Linked DNA regions of Homo sapiens. The protein of the gene in region 3 purifies or fractionates together with the protein of the main gene of each other region. This does not show direct contact. Each region holds a gene or a part of one and is shown on either strand. Other genes may lie near its edges.

Region 1 (3,500 bases), about 100 Mb from region 3:
AAAATCTTAGGATTCTTGGAAGCACAATTTGAAAACCATCACTTGGGGGCCTTACTGAATGAATAGTAATGTTTAAAAATTCTTTCACTTTCAGCATTACATGGTAATGTACTGACACAGAGTGGACACTTGAAATTACTGTTGAATGAATAAATGCTGAATTCTGAGCTAGGTAACCATATTAATTAATTAGTAATATATGCATGCGTTTATATATTTTTCAAATTACAAGCATTATGTAAATATGAAACACACGTAGCAGCTATGAAAATCATTTCTAGCCTATACATAAACCTACTTAAAACTACAAATATGTAGACCTGAAAGGAGCATAGCAGGCCTATCTAGCTTAAGTCTGATTTTACAGATAACTATTTGCATTGAGACAAAGAAAGATAAGAAACTTGCCCCAAGTCACCCAGTTATACACAACAAAGCTGACCAAGATACAAGCTATACACAGGTTCATAGCACTTTCCGTTATGTATACATTTCAAATAACAAGTAAGCATCTACTATATGTAAAGTACTGTGAAAAGTAAAGAATATAATGAATAAAACCTGATCTCTGCTATTAAGGAGATCAATCTATAAGGAGAGACAGACAAGTAATAGTTATAAATACAGCATAAGTAGAGTAACAAAAAAAATAGAGTTAACACTCTTGACATCAAATACAATTTGCCTTTAATTCCCATCAGTCTTTCCTACAATTTAACAAAAACTTATCTATGTTTCTTAATAACAATTAAAAGTATACATAATTAAGAATCAAACTGGGCACAGTAGCTCACAGCTGTAATCACGGCATTTGGGAAGCTGAGGTGGGAGGATCACTTGAGCCCAGGAGTTCAGGACCAGCCTGGGCAACACAGGGAGATCCCGTCTCTCAAAAAACAAAAACAAAAACAAAAAAAAAATTAGCAGGGTGTGGTGGTGCACAGCTGCAGTCCTAGCTACTTGATAGGCTGAGGTGAAAGGATCACTTGAGCCCAGGAGTTCGGGGCTACTGTGAGCTATGATACTGCCATTGTAATCTAGCCTGGGCAACAGAGCAAGCCCCTGTCTCTTAAAAGAAAAAAAAAAAAGAAAGGCCAGGCGCGGTGGCTCATGCCTGTAATCCCTGCACTTTGGGAGGCCAAGGCAGGCAGATCGCGTAAGGCCAGGAGTTTGAGACCAGCCTAGCTAACACAGTGAAACCCTGTCTCTGCTAAAAAGTACAAAAATTAGCTGGACATGGTGGCACACGCCTGTAATCCCAGCTACTCTGGAGGCTGAGGCATGAGAATTGCTTGAACCTGGGAGGCAGAGGTTGCTGTGAGCCAAGACTGTGCCACTGCACTCCAACCTGGGCTAACAGAGCAAGACTCTATCTTAAGAAAAAAAAAAAGAAAAGAAAAAGGATCATCATACAAATAGGAGTAGGGCAGCAACAGTGGTTTTGTGTATGGGACACTTCTGTAATGATTAATTTTTTAAATTAATATATGTTACTTTTGTCACTTTAAAAAATGCTTAAGACTAGGGCTGGGCATGCTGGCTTACACCTGTAATCCTAGCGCTTTGGGAGATTGAGGTCAGAGGACTGCTTGAGCCCAGGAGTTCAAGACCAGCCTGGGAATGTGGCAAGACTCCATCTCTACAAAACATCAAAAAATTAGCCAGGTGTGGTGGCACACTCCCGTAGCCCCAGCTACTTGGGAGGCTGCGGTGGGAGGATCATTTGAGAGCCCAGGAGGTTTGTGCCACTGCAATCCAGCCTGGGCAACAGTGTGAGACCCTGTCTCAAAAACAATAATAATAAAAATGCTTAAGATTAGCAACTTCCCTTATAAAATTGTTACAAATTTTATATTTCTTTATAAAATTACTTTATAAAGAATAAGCAAAATGGGAAATATGCTACATGTTACTGAAATAAGCAAGAAATGAAGTTGTATGCATTAACTGCAAAAAATGCAAAGAGAAACGATTTAGGAGAAGAGGAAAACACCTAAATGTCAACAGTGGTTTTACCGGCAAGGGGAAATTATGAGAAGGCTTTTCCCCTCTATTTCCTATAAAGAAATTACATTAGTTTCATGATGAAATATACCTATTGTTTCTTTAAATTAACAATCCAGGCCAGGCACAGTGGCTCACACCTATAATCACAACACTTTGGGAGGCCAAGGTGGACAGATCACCTGAGCTATGAAGTTTGAGACCAGCCTAAGCAACATGGCAAAACCCCATCTCTACAAAAATTAGAAAAATTAGCCAGGTGTGGTGGCATGTGCCTGTAATCCTAGCTACTTGGGAGGCTAAGGCAGGAGAATCACTTGAGCCTGGGAGGCAGAAGTTGCAGTGAGCCGAGATCATGCCATTGCACTCCAGCCTGGGCAACAGTGTGAGACCCTGTCTCAAAAAAAAAAAAAAAAAGAATCCTGTAGGAAAGGTATGAATATGAGCTCATATAATGATAAATCCTTCTTCATTAAAAACTGTACGTCAACTCTACTAAATTTCAGAGGACAGTGAATATTAGTTTCAACAAATATTCTATTTTACCAATAGAATCAAGAAAATAAAATGTCTAAAATTTTATATAAATTTTTTTATAGCCAACTATGAATCCCTTGTGATTTGATATCATAGTTCACAACAAAACATCTTTACTTACTCTGTAAGGCAGTACCACACAGTGATTATAACATGGGTTTTGAAGTATGCTTTCCCAGGTTTGCTCAAAGCTCAGCTCTGCCACTAAAAATCCATGTGGCCTTGAACAATTTAATGAATCTCTCTGCCTCACTTTACTCATATTTATAATGGGAATAATAATAAATAGCCACCTACAATAGTTATGCTGAGTAGACAGTTTAGATAAATTGCTAAATTAGCTCAGTGCCTGTCACACAGGAAACAGTGATAGCAATTATGATTACTATTAAGTTTCCTATTAAAATTTAACCCAAAATTGGCTAAAATAAAAATCAAAATATCAATTTCCCTTTCTGATAGAATACTCACCTTTGCTATTTGTTCAGCAAAATGTATCGCGGTTTGCGTATGGAGTGTAACTGGTCCTGTTTTTATTCTGGAAACTCCATTGGCTAATGCCATGAAAACAATCAGCTATTTAAAAAAGAACAAAGAAAAACCTCACACATTTATTAATATTTGGCATTATAATTCCACTGCTGCCCATAATAAAAATACTACTAGAAATAAAAATTGCTAAAACAGAATTTCTATTTCTTTAGGTTTCCAGACATACTCAGAAGATGACAGAAAACCTATGTTACCCTAAGTCTGTGAGTAGTACAAAAAGGCTTGGTAGCAGCTCTCAACATATAATTTTTTAAATTAATATTTACAAGTAAAATACAGAACAGTAATATACTTAGACCAACTATCTCTACAAGTTGGTATATATAATATGATGTTTATTCTACTCTCTTAAATTACATTTTAACAGCTGAATAGACAGACTAATACTGGGACTTTACTGGGAGTTT
Region 2 (4,243 bases), on a different chromosome or scaffold from region 3:
AGGATCTACCCTGCTTCAATTTCTTGTACCTGGTGTCCCTGTGGCCCTGCTCACTAAGATACCCCCATCAGTTCTGAGTCCCCACCCAGGTAACACACAAGCCCTCCCTGCCAGGTACTCCCCAACCTGGGTCCCACTTCAACCCCTCACATTCTGCCTTTCAGTCAGTGATGCCAGGGAAGAGGTGTGGGAGCCACCACCCCTGCCTGCCCTGTGCTCACTGTGACCCCCCGACTAGAATGTCACCTCCTTCCTTCTCTGCCTGTCCTTCCAGTATCAGCTCAAATCCAATCTCCCCCAATGCTTGGCTCTCTGCTGGGGCCTCCCATACAGCTCAGAAGGAGCTGGACACCGCATCTGTCACCCACACTGTCTCAGTGGCCCAAGCCTAGGCCCCGACGCAGGCTGGGAGCACCCTCGAAGCAGGGCTGGGGGCTCTTCCTGGGCTGCTGGGGTTCTTGGTGGAACTCAGAGTACTTTTCTTCCTCTCTGGGGCCTCAGTTTCCCTCTCTATACAAGTGGAAGATTGGCCCAGATGGCCTCTAGGGTGCTGACTGCCAGGCCCCCTGACCTGGATGCCTCAAATGTTGATGAGTAGAGGGAGAGCCTCCCAGCACGCCTCATTCGGATACGGGAGGACGAGGGCCTTTGCAGCCAGGGGCATCCAGGAGGGGTGGGAGGGACGCCTTCCTCAGGCAGGGGCTGCCCCTACTGCAGAAATCAGGGCAGGCAGCTGGACCAGGAGTGGTGACAGAGATGGGTTGCTGGACGGGAGCTCTCACAGCCCCTCCTCATTTCCGAGTCCTCCTAAAGGCAGGGGATGGTGTAACTTTATAAAACCCCACAGCACCATGCTGCTCTCTTGCCCTAAAACCCTTGTGGCATCTCCTTTGCCAACAGGGCATAAGGCCGTGGGCTTCATTTTGCCATTTAAGGCTTCTGTGCCCCAGCCCAGTGGTTCTCCCTGGCCTGTGCTCGAAATACGCCTCCCAGCCAGGCTGCTGGCCTTCCTGTCTCAACACCCCTCTGCTTACGCCCACCTTGGTGCCTCTGAGTCAGCGCCCCTGCCTGGAGGACTGACTCCCTTCCCATCCACCAAGGCTTGGTTTGAGGCCCACCCTGTGTCCTGCCCCAGCTTGCCCCTGCTTTTCTCCCCTCTGTACTTTTCATCCAGATTTTTGCTGTTTGAGATTTAATTTGCCTTTCTGCCTCCTGAATGAGTCTCAGTTCAGCCTCTCAATTTCCCGTGCCCCTGCGAGCCTAGCACCATGCCTGCATGCTGTCAGGGCTAAGAAGGTATTTGAGAATGGCTCTCAGTTGAAGCCCAAGGAGGTGGGGGTACTGGAATCCCTCCTTGGCTGGAGGCTGGGGCCTGAATGAGCTGACCACCCTGGTCACCTTGGATGCTCCCTTCCCATCTCCCTGGCGGCCCAGCCCATCCCTCAGGCCCTGAGATCTTAGGGGATCTGGTCCCTGCAGGAACAGGGAGCCTGGAGATCCAGCCCTGATTCACCCCGCGGGGGTCCTCCCTTGACTCACTTCCCTTCTGGGAACCATGTGATGCCCTCTTTTAGAGCTGGCTTCTCCATCTGAAGGAGAGAAGGGTGTGGCCTGGGCCCTTGTGAAGGAGGCTCAGGCCCTGCCTTTGCTCCATGTTGCTCTTGGGAATGATCTCGAAGGTGTAGCTGAAGCACTGAATCACACGTGGGTAGTGATGATGGATGGGCCCTAAGGCCACAGTTCTTATGGCATAACTAGAGCTGCCTTCGCTGAAGGAAGAATGCTGTCATGTTGGGGTTTCTGGCATCGGGACAGAGAGGGGATATATCCCAGCACTTCTCGGAAAGCGAACTTCCATTCAGCCTCTGCTGGGTCAGGCATCAGTGCTGGGATGAGGAGGTGTGGCAGGGGGTGGTCCAGAGCTATCTGTAGGACAAGCCCCGCTGAGGGGCACCAGCTCTCCCTCTAGGAGGCTGAGAGTGGGTAGTGGGTGGGGGGTCCTGCCTGTCACCAACAGGAGGAGGGAGAGGAGAGAATGAAGAGGGGAGGTGGCAGATAGACGGATCTGCAAGGAAGCAAGGGGAGGAAAGAAGGGGCAGAGCTGGGGGGCAGCTGGAGGGGTGTGGGGGTGCTCCTCACAGGGGAGGGCAGGGTGGCTCATTCCTCGTTTCCCACCTTGTAGCACTCCCCATTCCTGGCCCAGGGCATCTGAAGCTGGAGGACCCACTTCTCACTGTCGCCGGGTCCCTTTGGACCCCAACATACTCACCCCAAACTTGCCTGGCAAACAAAGCTCGGCCAGCATTGGGGTGGCCCCACTGGTGTCTCAGACAATCCAAACGGGCAAAGCCACGCCCTAGGCAATCCATGCCTGGGGCGCCTGCTCCCGCCCCTAACTGGACAGCCTTGGCTAGCTAGAAACCCCATAACCTGAGATAGCGGGGTCCCGTGTCCGCCCCAGGATTGAACCCCTGGCGACCCCAGCTAGTGGTGGGAGAAGCGCAGCCTGCTTGACTCCCGATCTGGGGGCCACTTCTGGCTCCTCCTGTCCCTTTTCCCTCCCGGAGGAACCCCTCTAGTTCCGCCAGGCTGGGTCGGGGTCTCAGGCCCCTCACTCACCCGCGGATGCAAGTCTGGCCAACATAGTCAGGGTCAAAGCCAAGGCCAGGCCGGGGGCTGGAAGTGGGGGCCGCGGCCCGGACTGCATCCCGGCGGGCTGGGCGGCAGGACTTGCGAGGAGCCAGCGGAGTCCTGGGAGCTGGGAGCTGAGTGGAGCGAGCGCGGCTCTGCTCCTGGGCGCGGGCCGGCTCCGGGTGTCCGCGCACTTAACTCCGGGGGCGGGGCAGGCGCAGACCCGCGCGCCCGCTCGGGTTTCAGGCTTGGACTCCCCCACCTGCCCCCACCCTCAACCTTCTTAAAGGGCCCGTGCGGGGCTGTTCCTCTCTGGGGCAGGGGTGAGGGGGCCCTTGCAGCTGGGCCAGACCCCAGCCCCACCCTAAAGACTTAGAACAAAGTCATAGAGAGGCCCAGACACCCTGAACTCTGGCCCCAAGAGCCGAGCCCGGGAGACCCCCTCAGGGAGGAGGCATGAACTGTCCCAGCCCCTACTTCCCTCCTTTCTGCCTTTGCGGGAGTTCAGGAGACCCCTCCACAGGCACACTCCAGCCTTAGGAGGAAGGACAGACACCAGCCACCCTCACAGGCGGCTTTTGGGCTGCTTTGCCTCGGAGGTCCCCTAGGAACTTCTCCAGACTCCAGAGGCACCACCCGAGGTCCTGTGGGGCACTGCCCATGGCTGCAACAGTGACCTTCTCTGCCTGGAAGGGCCTCACCTCAGTCTCCCTGTCTGTAAGGGAGAGATGTCTGGATTTCCTCGCAGGGCAGAAGAATTCTCAGTCCCGCCATGACATTTGCCTCAAAATAACCTTGCAAGGTGGGTGAGGAGCATCCCCTCCCCCATTTCATGGAGGACGAAAGTGCAGCTCAAGCTGAAAGTGGCTCTTACAAGACTCCAGGTGGAAAGTAGGTCCCTGGCCGTTTGGTGCCAGAAGCCCAGGCCTCCTGACCCCTGAATCCGGGTGTTTCAACTTCCCGAGGCTGCCTCCTGGAAATCTGGCCCTGGATTTGGCTTCTACCTAACAGCTTCAGGCTGGGGCCCTTCTGCTGGCTCCCTTCCAGGCAGCAACATCAGCCTAGTCCCAAACAGGAGGAGAAAGGGCAATGTTACTTAGCTTCCGGTGCCTAGAGGATCTGCGTGTTCTCTGTCCAGTCCCAATGTTACCGGGCCTTGGTTTACTTCCTCCATTCAGGTCCCTCCATCTATCTGCTCCAGCCCATCTCCAGCCCAACCCCACCTTGCACCCTCTTCCCAGCTCTTCCCTTTGACCAGTAACAGCCCAGCACTTCATACTTTGCAACGAAACTGAGACCTGTTTTGCAGATGAAGAAACTGAGGCTGAGAGAGATTAAGGGACTGGAGCTAGTCTACATAGCTGCTGAGATGTGGGGCCAGGTCTTTGACCCTAAGTGCAGTGCTCAGGTGTGATGGTGCCTGGTCCATGTGGGGGTTATGAGTATTGGTCTTGAAACCAGAGAGACCTGGGTTCAAATCCCAGCTCCCTTACTTGGTTGTCAAACCTTGAACAAGTCCCCTCACCTCTCTGTGGCAGTTTCCTCATTTGTAAAATTGGGTTAATGAGGATTAAATGCTTTAATGTACCTCAAGTCCCTAGCCCAGGGCCTG
Region 3 (2,289 bases):
GCACGTGGCTCATGCCCATAATCCCAGCACTTTGGGAGGCCGAAGTGGGTGGATCACCTGAGGTCAGGAGTTGGAGACCAGCTTGGCCAACATGGTGAAACCCTGTCTCTACTAGAAAATACAAAAATTAGCCAGTTGTGGTGGCAGGTGCCTATAATCCCAGCTACTCAGGAGGCTGAAGCAGGAGAATCGCTTGAACCCAGGAGGTAGAGGTTGCAGCGAGCTGAGATTATGCCATTGCACTCCAGCCTGGGCGACAAGAGCGAAACTCTGTCTCAAAAAAAAAAAAGTTTGATAAATGGTTATCGAATGTGTGAGAAAGTGTGGCTGGAAAGTGACTAGTAATTCACACCCTTGTGGCTGCTGTGAACCAAGAGTAGAGGCAGCAGCCTCGTTCTCACCAGTTGGGTATCATTAATATATCTGCAGGGAGACTTTCCTTTGGGACCACTGAGTCAACACCTCAAAGATGTCTTAAAAATCAGGCCACCTTGAAGCAGTACCATCACATAAGCATTGTTTACTGCCACTGTATTAGGTAAAGCCAACTGATTCTAGCCAAATGCCTGCCTGTGCTCTGCTTGGACCTGCCTTAAGATCTTGGCCTAATTTTTCCCTCCTCCTGGGACTGGATGAAGCAATATAGACTGTATGTTGTAACTTACTTATATTTCACTGTGTGGGGGGTAAAGAAATTCTTGGATAAAAGCCTCTGGAGTGAAGAACAGGACAAGGAGGTATGCTTTAGCCTGATGATAACACCCACAGCTCGTGCCAGCTTCCCCAACAGGTTGAGAAACCATCTTTATTTAAGAACTGCCTGCTACCAGAGTCAATAAATAACTATCATTACAAGAAGTACAGGAGAGAAACAGTAGGCCAACGGGAGTGGTTCCATTTTAACAAACACTGAGTCAAGTCAGTGGTCTGATGAAGCCCTAGCATTTGCCAAGCTGTGAGCCTCTCTAAGCTGTGCAGGCCCTGGATGGGACGGGTAAGTTGGAGGAGTCTTGGGGCCGAGGCAAGATGTATCCCATCTAAGGGCACTAAGTGTCATAGGCCCCAAAGGCTGCCTGGGGCTGTGGCCAAAGCTATCTGACCCATTTTGTTTCTCTCATTTTCCTTTACGTCCTGTCTTCCCAAAGCCTATGACCATATACACAAGTCCACGGGTGTTCCGCAGCTACCAGGTGCCTGTTTCCATGGAGCTTTTTGGGGGCACACAGAAAAATGCCCACCTAATGCCTTTTATGCTAAGAGCCTCTCTGGCAATCCCCATCACATCCAGGAGGAAGCCTAGGGTGGGTGTCACCCAGGGAGACAGAGCACCACTGTCATGCCAGTGGCCACAGGTTTGAGGATACTGTGTCTCCCACCAATGAGCCAGTTGGCAGTCCCATTCTGAGACCAGGCAGAGAAAAGATTCCTCTGTAGCTGGGGAAGAGATTAAGGGAGTCAAACATTCCTAGCCATTTTGGGCTCTTGCCCAGAGTACAGGCTGGCTGGCCCTTGGGGCTGCCCTAAAGAGGCAGCATACGCTGGGATGAGCACTGGGCTGTAACCAGAATTCCTAGATGAGCCCCCTTAATGGCTTCCCATAAGGTGCAGGGCCACAGAAGGTGGGATCTCCAAGACTTCCTGGGCTGAACACTTTGATTCTAAGAGTCTCATCTCTGGATGGACACTTGGACCATCTCCTGCCCCTCCAGTCACAGCTTCACCTTTCCCAAATCCCATGTCAACAGCTGTCAAAATTCCTCAAAGCTCCCTCAGAAAGAAGCCTCTTCCTTATTCCAGGGCCTCCTGGAATGAGGAAGGTCATTCCAGAGGTTTTTTTCTGATGTTTAACCTCAGTCTCGTCTGTTGTTACTTTATGAAAAGAAAAAGACACCCCCACCTACCCCCATGGCCTTGCCACTCCCTGGCACCATTTGTATCATTTGTTGCCCTGAATGAAAGCAGATAACCTGACCTTGCTGGGCCCTGAGACTCTGTCTGGAGAGAGCTGCCTTCCCCCTGAGGCTGGGTGTACATCTGGACTGTTAGAGCAACAAGGACCAGAGAGCCAGGGCAAAGGGCTCTGTAAGGGGAGCCCAAATGTATGCAGAAGAGAGGACACTTGTCTCCCTAGGCCCTGGAGAGGTGCCTACAGTTGGTTCCTTTTCCTAGTCCCCAGGGTGTTTACTGGCCACTAAGCTGTGGGGTAAAGTACTTGTTTGTGGCTGTTCCTCTTGCCGCCTCCTCTGGGGCTTGATGTATGAGAGGAGATAACCCAGAACTGTGGTCTCA

The links.
Region 1: the proteins of CNTN2 (region 3) and RTCA purify together in Homo sapiens (affinity purification with mass spectrometry; one large-scale study listed by BioGRID and IntAct). This does not show direct contact.
Region 2: the proteins of CNTN2 (region 3) and CSPG4 purify together in Homo sapiens (affinity purification with mass spectrometry; one large-scale study listed by BioGRID and IntAct). This does not show direct contact.

Annotation. Positions count from the first base shown.
Region 1 is NC_000001.11:100,286,716-100,290,215, reverse strand, and holds part of RTCA (RNA 3'-terminal phosphate cyclase), read right to left. Parts: intron 3,118-3,500; coding exon 3,013-3,117; intron 1-3,012.
Region 2 is NC_000015.10:75,710,049-75,714,291, forward strand, and holds the start of CSPG4 (chondroitin sulfate proteoglycan 4 precursor), read right to left. Parts: upstream 2,801-4,243; 5' UTR 2,708-2,800; coding exon 2,620-2,707; intron 1-2,619. UniProt on the Homo sapiens protein: Proteoglycan playing a role in cell proliferation and migration which stimulates endothelial cells motility during microvascular morphogenesis. May also inhibit neurite outgrowth and growth cone collapse during axon regeneration.
Region 3 is NC_000001.11:205,076,501-205,078,789, reverse strand, and holds the end of CNTN2 (contactin-2 precursor), read right to left. Parts: 3' UTR 501-2,289; downstream 1-500. UniProt on the Homo sapiens protein: In conjunction with another transmembrane protein, CNTNAP2, contributes to the organization of axonal domains at nodes of Ranvier by maintaining voltage-gated potassium channels at the juxtaparanodal region. May be involved in cell adhesion.